2 separate regions of the Homo sapiens genome follow, and region 2 is linked to region 1. The links come from fine-mapping of genetic effects on gene expression. A gene starts in region 1. The other region holds a variant in brackets. All regions are shown on one strand. Distances are between the middles of the regions.

Region 1 (5,393 bases):
TACCAAAGCAACAGCACTGCCTTTTTCTTTAGAAAATAAAATAACAAACTCCTACTTCCTGGTTTCCAAGATTAACAAATATTCAGTTTTACCAAATATTCAGTTTTACCATAATTGCTTCAGAATTTGAGAAAAATTAAACAACACATTTAAGAAATAAAAGTCTCATATGTTTTCCACACTGATACTTAAAGCCAATTATTCTTACGATGTTGGCCAGTTTTAAAATTTGATTATTGCCCAATTTTTAAATGGTCTAGATTGTAGTTGCTCACTTAAGTCATTGCGGCTGTTGGGCAAATTTGGCTTTTTGTTTTGTTTTGTTTCGTTTAAAAAATAATATTAGTGGTTTGTAATGGTTAGAGACGGTGGAAGATGGCCTTTTATCACCTCACCATCAGTGGCTTAGGTAAAACAAAAATCAGCCATAGAACGCTTCTGCCCATCAGAAGCAGGCCCCCAGTTGACATGCCTCCTATTTTACAGCTCAAGAAGCTCTACTGTTCACCTTCTAAAAGTCTTTTGTGACAGGAAATGCTTTTTTGACAGCAGGACTAGCCCACCTGCCCAGTAGTAAGTCTGAGGTAGAGAGATGCAGGCTCTAGACCTTGAAGATTGCTCTAATGCCAAAGATTCTTATATCTGGTGCAGGCAAGAATAGGTGGGTGTGTGCATATATTTAGTATTGTGCTGGCGCAGATGGAGCCCACTGTGTACATCTCTTCCCAACACTGCATTCAGTGACATGGTGTTGGTAGCTTGAAATTGACCATGGCAATCAACAAACACTACAAATAAAGGCTTGGTTTTGTTTGTTTGCTTGTTTGTTTTTACTTTTTTTAAAAGAGCCGATTATTAAACATTTACCTGTGCATGGCTGAATATATTCCATAATTTATCTTTTCTTTTAGTATAAACACATTTTCCCCATTCTTTACCATAACAAAAAAACTTCAATGAATATGCTATGTGGAATTTTGTGCACATATGTGTGAGTTCCTTTAGCATATAGACCTAGAAGTGAAGTTTCTATCTTATGAACTGTGCACATTTCAACTTCATTAGATAGCATCAAATTGATGTCCTACTAGATTTCCTATTTTCTTACCTTCTTGTTGACACTTGATATTGTCAGTCTTCTTAATTTATGCCAATCTTAGCTTGAGGTGGTATTTTACTGCTATTTGAACCTATAATTTTTCTGATTACTTACGAGGCTAAAAATCTTTTTACATATTTATTGGCCATCTGGGTCTTTTGTGAATTTGCTACTCATATTTTTTGTTCATTTTTTCCTTAGATAATCTCCTGTTCTTTTTATTGATTTGTAGAAATTCTTTACATATCCTGAATACTTATTCTTATTCAATTATATGCAGTATACATATCATCTCTCACCTGTGGCTTGTCTTTTAATCATGTTATGTTTTTGTCATAAAGAAGTTTAAATTTTGATACAGTCAAATGTATTATTCTTTTCCTCTGTAATTTCTATGTTTTTTTCATGTTTAAGCAATCTTTCTTGACCTAAAGGTTAAAAATATGTTCCTATATTTTCTTTTTTGAAGTTTATATTTTCATATTTAAATTTTTAATCTATCTAGAATTTATTTTTGTCAATGGTATCAGGTGTACATTTAATGTATTTCCTCATATGGAAATGCAATTATTCCCACATTATTATGAAAGAGACCCAAGTTTCCCTCTTGCCTTTTTGGTTCCTCTTATACATAAAAGCCCTGCATATGCTTGCATCTATTTGGATATTACCTATTCCAGTCTATAGATTCATTTTATCTTTATTTTTGGAACTATTACACTCTAATTACTGTAACTTTACCAAAGCTCCTGATATTCTTTTGAGGCAATTCTTTTCTCTTTATTCAGCCTTTTCAGAATTTTCTTATCTATTCTTCAATGTTTACTCTTTCATGCGAATTGAACCATTTGTCAGCTTGGCAAGTTCCACTGAAAACCCTGTTAGATTTTTTACTAGAATGACAATGAATTTATAGATTAATATTAAAACAATCTATTAATATTTCATACATATGTACATATAGAGAGAGAGTCAGGTATTTTTATGTCCTTCAATAATTGCTTTATAACATTTCCATAAAATTTGAATTTATATTTTATTAGAATTAAATAATAATAATTTTATAAATTATTTTTATTTTTATTGTTAAGGGGATCGTCTATCCTGTTTTATGATATGAATGGCTATGGCTGCCCTATAGGAATGTTATTAGTTCTTATATGCTCATTTCCGTATTAATTTTTCAAACTTTTCCCCAGTCTTTGGAGCTTAAGCATTTAAGGTAAACTTAGTGTTTGTCCTCGAAAGAGTCAATGATGTTATCTTTGACAACCTTTATTGGCACTACGGTACATATGGAAGGGTCAAAGTTTCTAATACGACCGTCAGGGTAAAGTCTAAACGGTATTTATGACAAGGTGTGTGCTAAAATCAGCTCACTTGCAGCAATGGCTTGGATTAGATCCACTTGCATTCTCTTTTTTACCTTGCTTTTTGCCCACATAGCAGCTGTACCGGTAAGTCGAGTCCTGCTTTTTGGATATTTAGAAATATTAATTCTAGTATACATTATCCATTTTCTGTATATTTATTTTTTTCAGATTAAGTATCTTCCTGAAGAAAATGGTAAGAATTAGTTCAAATGCACAGAGAGTGTTTTTGAACTTTTTTCCTTCGGCAAGACTAATAATAATTTTTTTTCTCACTTTTAACAGTACATGATGCAGATTTTGGTGAACAGAAGGATATTTCAGAAATCAATTTAGGTGAGTTCAATTTTTGTGTTATTAAAGTCTTGAAATTACTTGAAACCCAGTGGTGGGATTACTGAACACTTTCCTTCCTAATACTGTATTGTGATTCTCTGGGGGAGAAATATTTTTTGGTGCTTTGTGAGAAATTGCATTTTCTGAAAGATAAAAATGCGGAAAGAGAAGATAGTTAGACCAGACTTTCTAGGAGAGCTAGGAAGTCCTCAATGGATCTAGAAATATGTAACAAGTTTCTCTTTATAAAAATTTTATTTTTCCAATTTGTATTTGGAGGAAAAGGAAAGCAAATAGATAATTATTCCGATTGTTAAAGAAAAATATAAGAATAAGCCTCTGGTTATATTTAGTGGGGAAACAAAACCCAACCCCTCCACTGGCCCATCATATTCACTAACAACTCCTCGGTTGAGACTTAGGGGTGAGTGTAAAGCAATCTCCACTTAGACATCTCATTTACAAATATATTTCTTGAAGAAATTCATCAGTCTCATCCATTACTGAGAGGAGAGAGAAGCTGAGTCATCATCTCTGTTTTCTCTCTGTTGTCCTGCTTCTGAAATGAGAGAGAAGCCTCTGCATTCCCAGTGTCTTAGGTCAGGATTTGTGGAAGCAGAGCTATTCATGATAATAAGTACCTTCAGTTTACAAAAGCTTTTATATGCAATTGCATATTTATTTGTCCAGTCTTGTCGTGGAGTAAGTGCTGTTTTCATTTTTTTGGGAAGCGACAGGTGGCTTCTCATGGGTAGAGTGACTTGCTCAAGATCATAGGTAGCAGTGATGGGGCTTACTTCCAGATCTTGTAGCCCATACCTTAATAGCTCAGTGCTATCTGAAGGCTACAAAACTAACATACCAATAACTAAGGGTCAATTTTTCTGGCTTTGTCTCACTCACAGAGAAGCCAGTTAGTTGATATTTAATTGGAATAGCTGGAGAATGGCTGCATAGGCAGAGCAGAAATAGTTTAGGAAGGTAAATGGGTGAATGCATAAATGGGTCCCAAGACTTCAGAGCCAGGCACTAAAATATCTCTCTTTAGAGTTAGCCATTGTGTAAACAGTTCAGAGAATCTGCTGTATTTTACAACAGAAATGGGATTAGAATTAGAGTTTTTCTAATCTCATCATTATTTATCTAATAAAAATTAATTATTTACCTCTTTGCCATTTTGTACTCTTTAGGCCCACCACCACCTCTGATCCTTGACCCCAGTGGAGAAATCTCATTACCATGTAAATCTTCTTTTTAGGCCATTTCAACCAAACCACCAGGATTGATTGGGTTAGCCATATGGCCAGATTCTAACACCATAAATTGGGAAAATCATATAGAGAAAATTGCCACCTTTTTACCATCTTCTTTTTGCCTCACAAGGCTGAGTAAACGTTTCTTATCCTCCATCCCAAGACCTGCTCCTCTCAGTCCTTTTCATTTCAGTAAATGTGACTCACTCCTTCTAGATTTTCGGCTCAGAATGTTAGAGTTGCCCCTAACTCTTGCTTTTCTCTCACACCTGACACACAATCTGTCAGCAAATGTTATTCGATCTACTCGATCTACTTTTCTTTTTTCTCTTTTCTTTTCTTTTCTCCTGAGATGGAGTGTTGCTATGTCACCCAGGCTCGAGTGCAGTGGTGCCATCTCGGCTCACTGCAACCTCCGCCTCCTGGGTTCAAGCGAGTCTCCTGCCTCAGCCTCCCGAGTAGCTGGGATTATAGGTGCCCACCACCATGCCAGGCTAGTTTTTCTATTTTTAGTAGAGATGGGGTTTCTCTATGTTGGCTAGGCTGGTCTTGAACTCAAGACCTTGTGATCCGCCCACCTTAGCCTCCCAAAGTGCTGAGATTACAGGCATGAGCCACCACGCCTGGCCTAGATCTACTTTCAAATCATACTACAGTTGAGACTTTTCAGCACTTTTACTGCCCCTACCTTGGTCAGCCACCTCATGTCTGGGCTGGTCCTTTGACAGGCCTCATAACTGTGCTTCCCTTTCTGCCTTTGCTCCCTAAAGACTATTCTGCACAACATAGAGCTCTCCTTTTAATATCCTTCAGATCATGTCATTTCTCTGCTCCAACCATCTAATGACTTCTCCTTCAACATAAAGTAAAGGCCCTAGAGCCTTGATTCCCAAAGTGTGGTCCACAGGCCAAAGTGATCTGTGTCACTCAAGAGCTTTCTCTTAGAAATGCAGCATTTGAGGATCCACCCCAGACCTACAGAATTAGCATCTTCATTTTGACAGACCCAAGTGGTTTCTATGCACATCAGAGTGTGAGTCAATCTGCCCCTGACTACTCTTCCCCTTCCTACTTGAGCTTTCCAGCCACCCTGACTGCACAGCTACTCCTCTAAGGAAGTGATTTTCGATGTGTTGTCCCCAAGCCAGCAGCATCGGCATCACCAGGAAACTTGTTAGGAATGAACATTCTCAGGCCTCACCCCAGACTTAATGGACCAGAAATCCAACGGTGGGGGCTCATCAACGGGTGTTGACCAAGCCTTCCAAGGGACTCTGATGCTCAAGTTTAGGACCACTGCCCTAAGACATCAAGGCTTTCCTGTCACAGGACCTT
Region 2 (5,393 bases), 35 kb before region 1:
TCTATATAAATCAAGAAACGCCTGACTTCTTTAGTAGTTTGTATTTGCAAGATCTAAGATCATGGTAAACATTAGGTCCTAAAATCTTGGGGAAGGACAACATGTCCTTCCTCTGACTTGTTAGCAATCAAATTGAGTAGGTTTTAAATGTCTGTTAATTGGAAGGGTTTGTTATTTCATTTTCAGCCAAAGGAGAGAGGTGCATTTTAAGTATCAGAATTAGATCAGCTTTGAGTTTGTACTAAATTTGGAATGTAATAGATTTTCATAAATTACGTGTGCCTTTTTGGAAATGTCAACTGTCTTTATGTCTGCTTGTAAAAGTTTCAAAATATGTTTTTCTCTCAAAAAGGCAACGTTATTTCATTTGCTTGAATATTATGATAGGAACGCTTACTGATATTACTTGATAGTTTTATATAGCCTTGGAACTTTAACATATAATATAGCAGTATTAATCATGATAGTTGTACTTCTTTGAAACATTAAATTTGAGGAAACTAATCTATGTAATTGTCTCCACTTCTTCACCTCTCACCCACGCTTCAGACTTCTTCCCTGATCCCCATACTGAATCAGCTGTCACTCAAGTCATTAGGGAGCTCCTCACGCTAAATCAATTGCCTCTTCTCAATTCACATCTTACCTCCACTTAATTCGGTATTTAATATTCCTGAAACTCTTCTCCCTTGTTTTATCTGATGCTATTCTCTTTTAGTTTTTCTTCTACTTCTCTGATAATTCCTTATGACTTTTAAAATGTGCTTTTTCTAAGAATAAATCTTATGATATGTTCTTGCGTGCCTTTTAAATGCTGACATTCCTTAGGGTCCTGCCCTTGGCTGTCCTCTACTGACTCTCTCTAAGTAATCCCAGCCCCTCCCTAGTGACCAGGGATCAACATGAAATATGATCCCAGCATAACTGAAATGCAGGAGGGGTGCTTGCCTCCAAATAGTGGGGAGTGCTATTACCAAGAAAAGTAGGCAGACAGTGTTGAGCCAGCAAAAACAATAAAGGTCAGTCACATCACGTGTGAGTCATTTCTACTTATTATCAGCTCCCACTAAGAACTTCCCTGACAGAGCGTTTAGGGAGAAGAATCCTGAATTAAGGGGGGATTAACCTGGATCTTGAAAGCTAGCTGGCTAATGAAGGAGGGAGAAAAACTGTTGATTTAGAGTGAAGGCACCAACTTGGAAATGTGCATAGGTTGTGTGTATATGTGAGAAGGTGAGGGATAGTGGAGTGCAGGGATGAGTGGCCTGGCTAGGCAGAGCATTCACACTAGAGAGGAATGGAGCATAAGGTCAGGTGACGGGGTGGGTGACCACAGTGAACTAGGCAAGCAGAAGAGTGTGAGCTCATCAGGGGAGTCACAAGCTGAAACAGATGCATTAGCAATTTATTTGTGTAGTAGAGGAGTTGGCAGTGGTACTGCGTGGGATTGAAGACTGCTAGACTTTAGGCAAGGGGATCACTTAAGGAATTTCTTATTGATTCACATTTTGAGTAAGTTGGCTCCTGGGCTAGGTGATGAAGATAAAGGATATAAGAGAACTTCAAAAGAAGCCTAGACCATATGTGATCATTTTCTGAATATCCTAGGGAATGTTGTGAAACAATTCAGCTTTTGATTCAGCCCCCCAAGTGATAAACCTCTCATTTAGCAAATATTTTTGAGTTCTACTATGTGTATGTCATTGAGTTAGACACTAAAAACAACCTAAAATAAACCAGATACAGTGCTGGACATCAAGAAGGTTAACTGTGTGGGAGACGAAATAACTTGTTTACATAAATAACACTAATACAAGACAGAGAGTGACTAGGCAGAGGAAAGACATGGTGTGGTCTGAAGATTGAAAGGTCACTTCCAGCTTAGGGTGAGGGACTAGTGAGTTTGCTGTCCTTTGAATGAACTGTGCTTTTAATAATGGTTTGCACTTAAAATGCTATTTGCCTTCCCTATACCATTATCTATCCTCTTAAATTCCATTTGTCCTCATATTGGTTCAAAAGTGACTTTTCCAAGTACCTTTAAGCAAGTCACATACTCACCATTGGCCTCATACAAAACTGTATATGTGTGTATTTCCCATTGTCTATGTGTGTATAATGCTCTATTTATTTATCCATCCATGTATCCATTTACAATTATATGTATTTTTACAGAATCCATACATACGTATAATACATATGTGATTGTGAGTGATTCTCATTTTGTTCCTTATATGTTTCTGTACTTTTAAATTTTATACAAGGAACACACATCACTTTTATGATTATGAAAAATAAAACTAAAAATAAACGAAAACAGTCTCGCAATAATCTGCAGGTTGCTCTATAAATGTGAGCACTTCAAGAATCAGGAGCATTTTCTTCAAGCTGAGTGACTATCTTTGAGTCTGTTAACATCTCACTCGGGTCCCACAATTTTTCTCCACCTCCAAGTAGTTTCTTTAGTGTCTGAGACCTTCCCTAAGTGTATGCTTGGAAATGCTCAAACTTGGCCTCCTTCCTTCTCAACTGAACTGCGGTGTGCAGAACCTGTGAATAAAGGCCGATTCCCAGGCTGGAACAGGTCCTCCTGATCCAAGTTCAGAAG[G/C]CTCTCTCTTCTTTCCTAGGGCAGAGCCCGAGTGCCAGGACCACCGTTGCGCTGCCCAGCAGAAGGGGCTGCCTCTGGATGAGCGTGATGAAGACTGGGATGCCAAGAAAAGGGAGCTGGAGCTGTCTCTTCCTTCCCTAAATCAAAACATGAATAAAAAGAATAAGAAAAGTCGAGGCCCCACCAGGCCCAGCAATACCAAGGGGAGGAGAGTATGAGAACTCAACCTTATGTTTTCTGGCAAGGAACTTTCCCTGGTGCCAGAAATGAGGCTGTTAGGCATGGTGGCCTTTCCATGACTTTACTCATAGACCCTTACCCACCTGGCTTCTGCCCATGGACCTGTCATTAGGTGCTGTCCACATGGGCTGTTGTTTCCTGGCTAGCACCTACTGTGTACAATAATTACCGGGAAAGGACAAAACCTGCTTGCATTTTGTCATCAGTGGTTTGCACAGTCAGCATCTTTTGACCCCTGCCCCCCAACAATAATAGAATTTCAGGAGACAAGGAAACTCTGGCATGAATTAACTTCATCCCTGATAACGATCGAGAGATAATGTAAAATAATGAACATGTGATTATAGGTCTACTTTTTCAACTGTAAATTTGGGAAAATTAAATTCAGATCAGATAATTCCAATAAAAAATTGCATCCAAATTGAGATGCAAAATACACATTAGATTTCAAACACTTAGTACAAAAATATAAAATGTCTCCTTAATAATACTTAATATTGATTCCACATTGAAATGATAATATTTTGGATATTGCGTTGAATAAGATATATTACCAAAATGAATTTTATCTTTTTCCTTTTCCTTTTTAAAACATGTGGCTACTAGAATGTTTAAAATTACCCATGTGCTTTTTTAGTTTATTTCTATTGGACAGCATTGCTATAGAACCCAAACAGCATGTTAAGCCTCTACTAGGAGACTAGTCTGGTGTATTTTACTTTCCCTGGCTGCTCTGCATTTTAGATATACTAATTTCTCTGCCTAAATCAATTTATTTAGCTATCAAGTATCTTTATTACTTATTCCTCAATTAATGCTTGTGTTAATACAAGTCATGCTTTGTTTGAATTTTCTGGTATGAAAAAAATGCTTGAATATCTTATAGAAAAGCAGTATAGCTATAGAGGATACCTTTCCTCGTGTTGATCTACCCTTGAGCATCAATCCCTTTCTCTATGCTCTGCAATGCAGAGTAGTTCCTGCTTTGGACCAGTAGAAACATTGGAAGACAACTGACTCGAGCTGGACTAATAAGATTCTTCTCCTGGGTACTTGAAAAGAAATCCTCATGATAGGCTGGACCAATAGCAGATGACTTCAGAAGTATGGAGTGGCTAATTCTACACTAGGGCTGAGGAAGGGTACAGAGATGCTCTACAAAAAGGACAAGAAGACCGAGGAAAAGACAAAGGGATAGAGATAGGTCAGTAGATAAATGAATAGAGAGATTAGATAGATAGATAGATAGATAGATAGATAGATAGATAGAGATGAATAGTTAGATAATTTGCTATTCCTAGTTCTGGTTCCTTACTCAGGAATCTGTGAAATACTATTTTATCATAAAAGTTGCCCTTTGCTTACAGTATATTGAATTGATTATTTTCCTTGCAAGCAGACTTTTCTAATAAGTACAGTATTTTAATCATGGGCTTATGAGTAATGGTGACTTAGGTTTGTATCCTCCTCTACGGAAATAGGTAAAAGAATTCCCATTTCCTGGGGTTGCTGTGAGGATGAGATGGACAATGTGTGTAAGATGCTGACATTGGCACACTATAACTGGTTTATGTCATGACTGTTGTATTACTATAGAAGTGAACTCAGTTTTCCCCTGGGAATCCCAAAGGGATCCAGGAATAATGCCTTTTATAGGTCACATGAGGCTCTTTATTGTCCAGTCCATAAATATCCCATCTAGTTTTGTGGCATGGATAATAGCCTGTCCTCCATCAGCTGGACAAAACTGTGATAAGCAAAGTGTCTTTGGTTGTGTCCACAACCCTATGGCCTCCCAGTGCCCTCATTGTGCCCTCATTTCATACTTATTCTCATTGAGATATAAAGAGACTTATGTCTTCTCCCACAAGTTTTTAGGTAGTAAGTGAGAACAACAGGAAGAGAATGCTAAAATAGCTTCTCTGTATGAATAATTTAATGCAACATAGACTCTATACTAAGTGCTTTACATGGATTGTATCTAATCTGCATGACATACCTGCAAGGCAAGTATCATTATCCCCAACTGACATCACAAACTGAAGTTCTGAGAGGTTGAATGACTTGCCCTAGGCCACCTGACCGATGTTTGTGCTGGCTGTAAAGCCTGGCTGGATTTGGTCGATGGGCTAATCTTTCAGGCTCTAAGACCTTTGGCAGGTTGCTTAACTTCTCAAGTTTCCTCTTCTGTAAACAGGGAGATCATACCAGCACCTATGTCATAGGGTTGTGGTGAGGATCAAATGAGATAATACATGTTAGCTACTTAGTACAATGTCCTCAACAAGGTGTGGGTCACCAAATGTCAGTTGCTGTGGTAGTTATTATTTTTCACAGCCTTCACTGTCCCAGATACGTAACAATGAAGAATGGCTTGCCTCGAAGCATTTCCCTCAGTCCAGAGGGGGAGATTTGGGGTGACATCATTCTCTGAAGTCCATCAAAACCCTGAATGAAGTTGTCCACTATATTCTTGCCCCTGAGGTTGAGCTCTCCACCGAGCAGCCTTAGGGCTGAGGTTTGTCCCTTGCAAGGTATCTGAGCC

What was found.
Region 2: its variant is fine-mapped to the expression of MEP1A in nasal epithelium (TOPMed, PIP above 0.99).

Annotation. Positions count from the first base shown.
Region 1 is chr6:46,790,912-46,796,304 of GRCh38, forward strand. MEP1A (meprin A subunit alpha) reads left to right here and starts at 2,478. Exons shown (of 14, transcript NM_005588.3): 1 at 2,478-2,556; 2 at 2,641-2,665; 3 at 2,755-2,805. The coding sequence starts at 2,488.
Region 2 is chr6:46,756,096-46,761,488 of GRCh38, forward strand. It overlaps ANKRD66 (ankyrin repeat domain 66), which reads left to right. Exons shown (of 5, transcript NM_001162435.3): 5 at 2,628-3,411. The coding sequence ends at 2,826. Among named protein-coding and RNA genes, the nearest start is that of ANKRD66, 12 kb to the left of the region's middle. The variant G/C (reference allele first, on the strand shown) is at 2,609.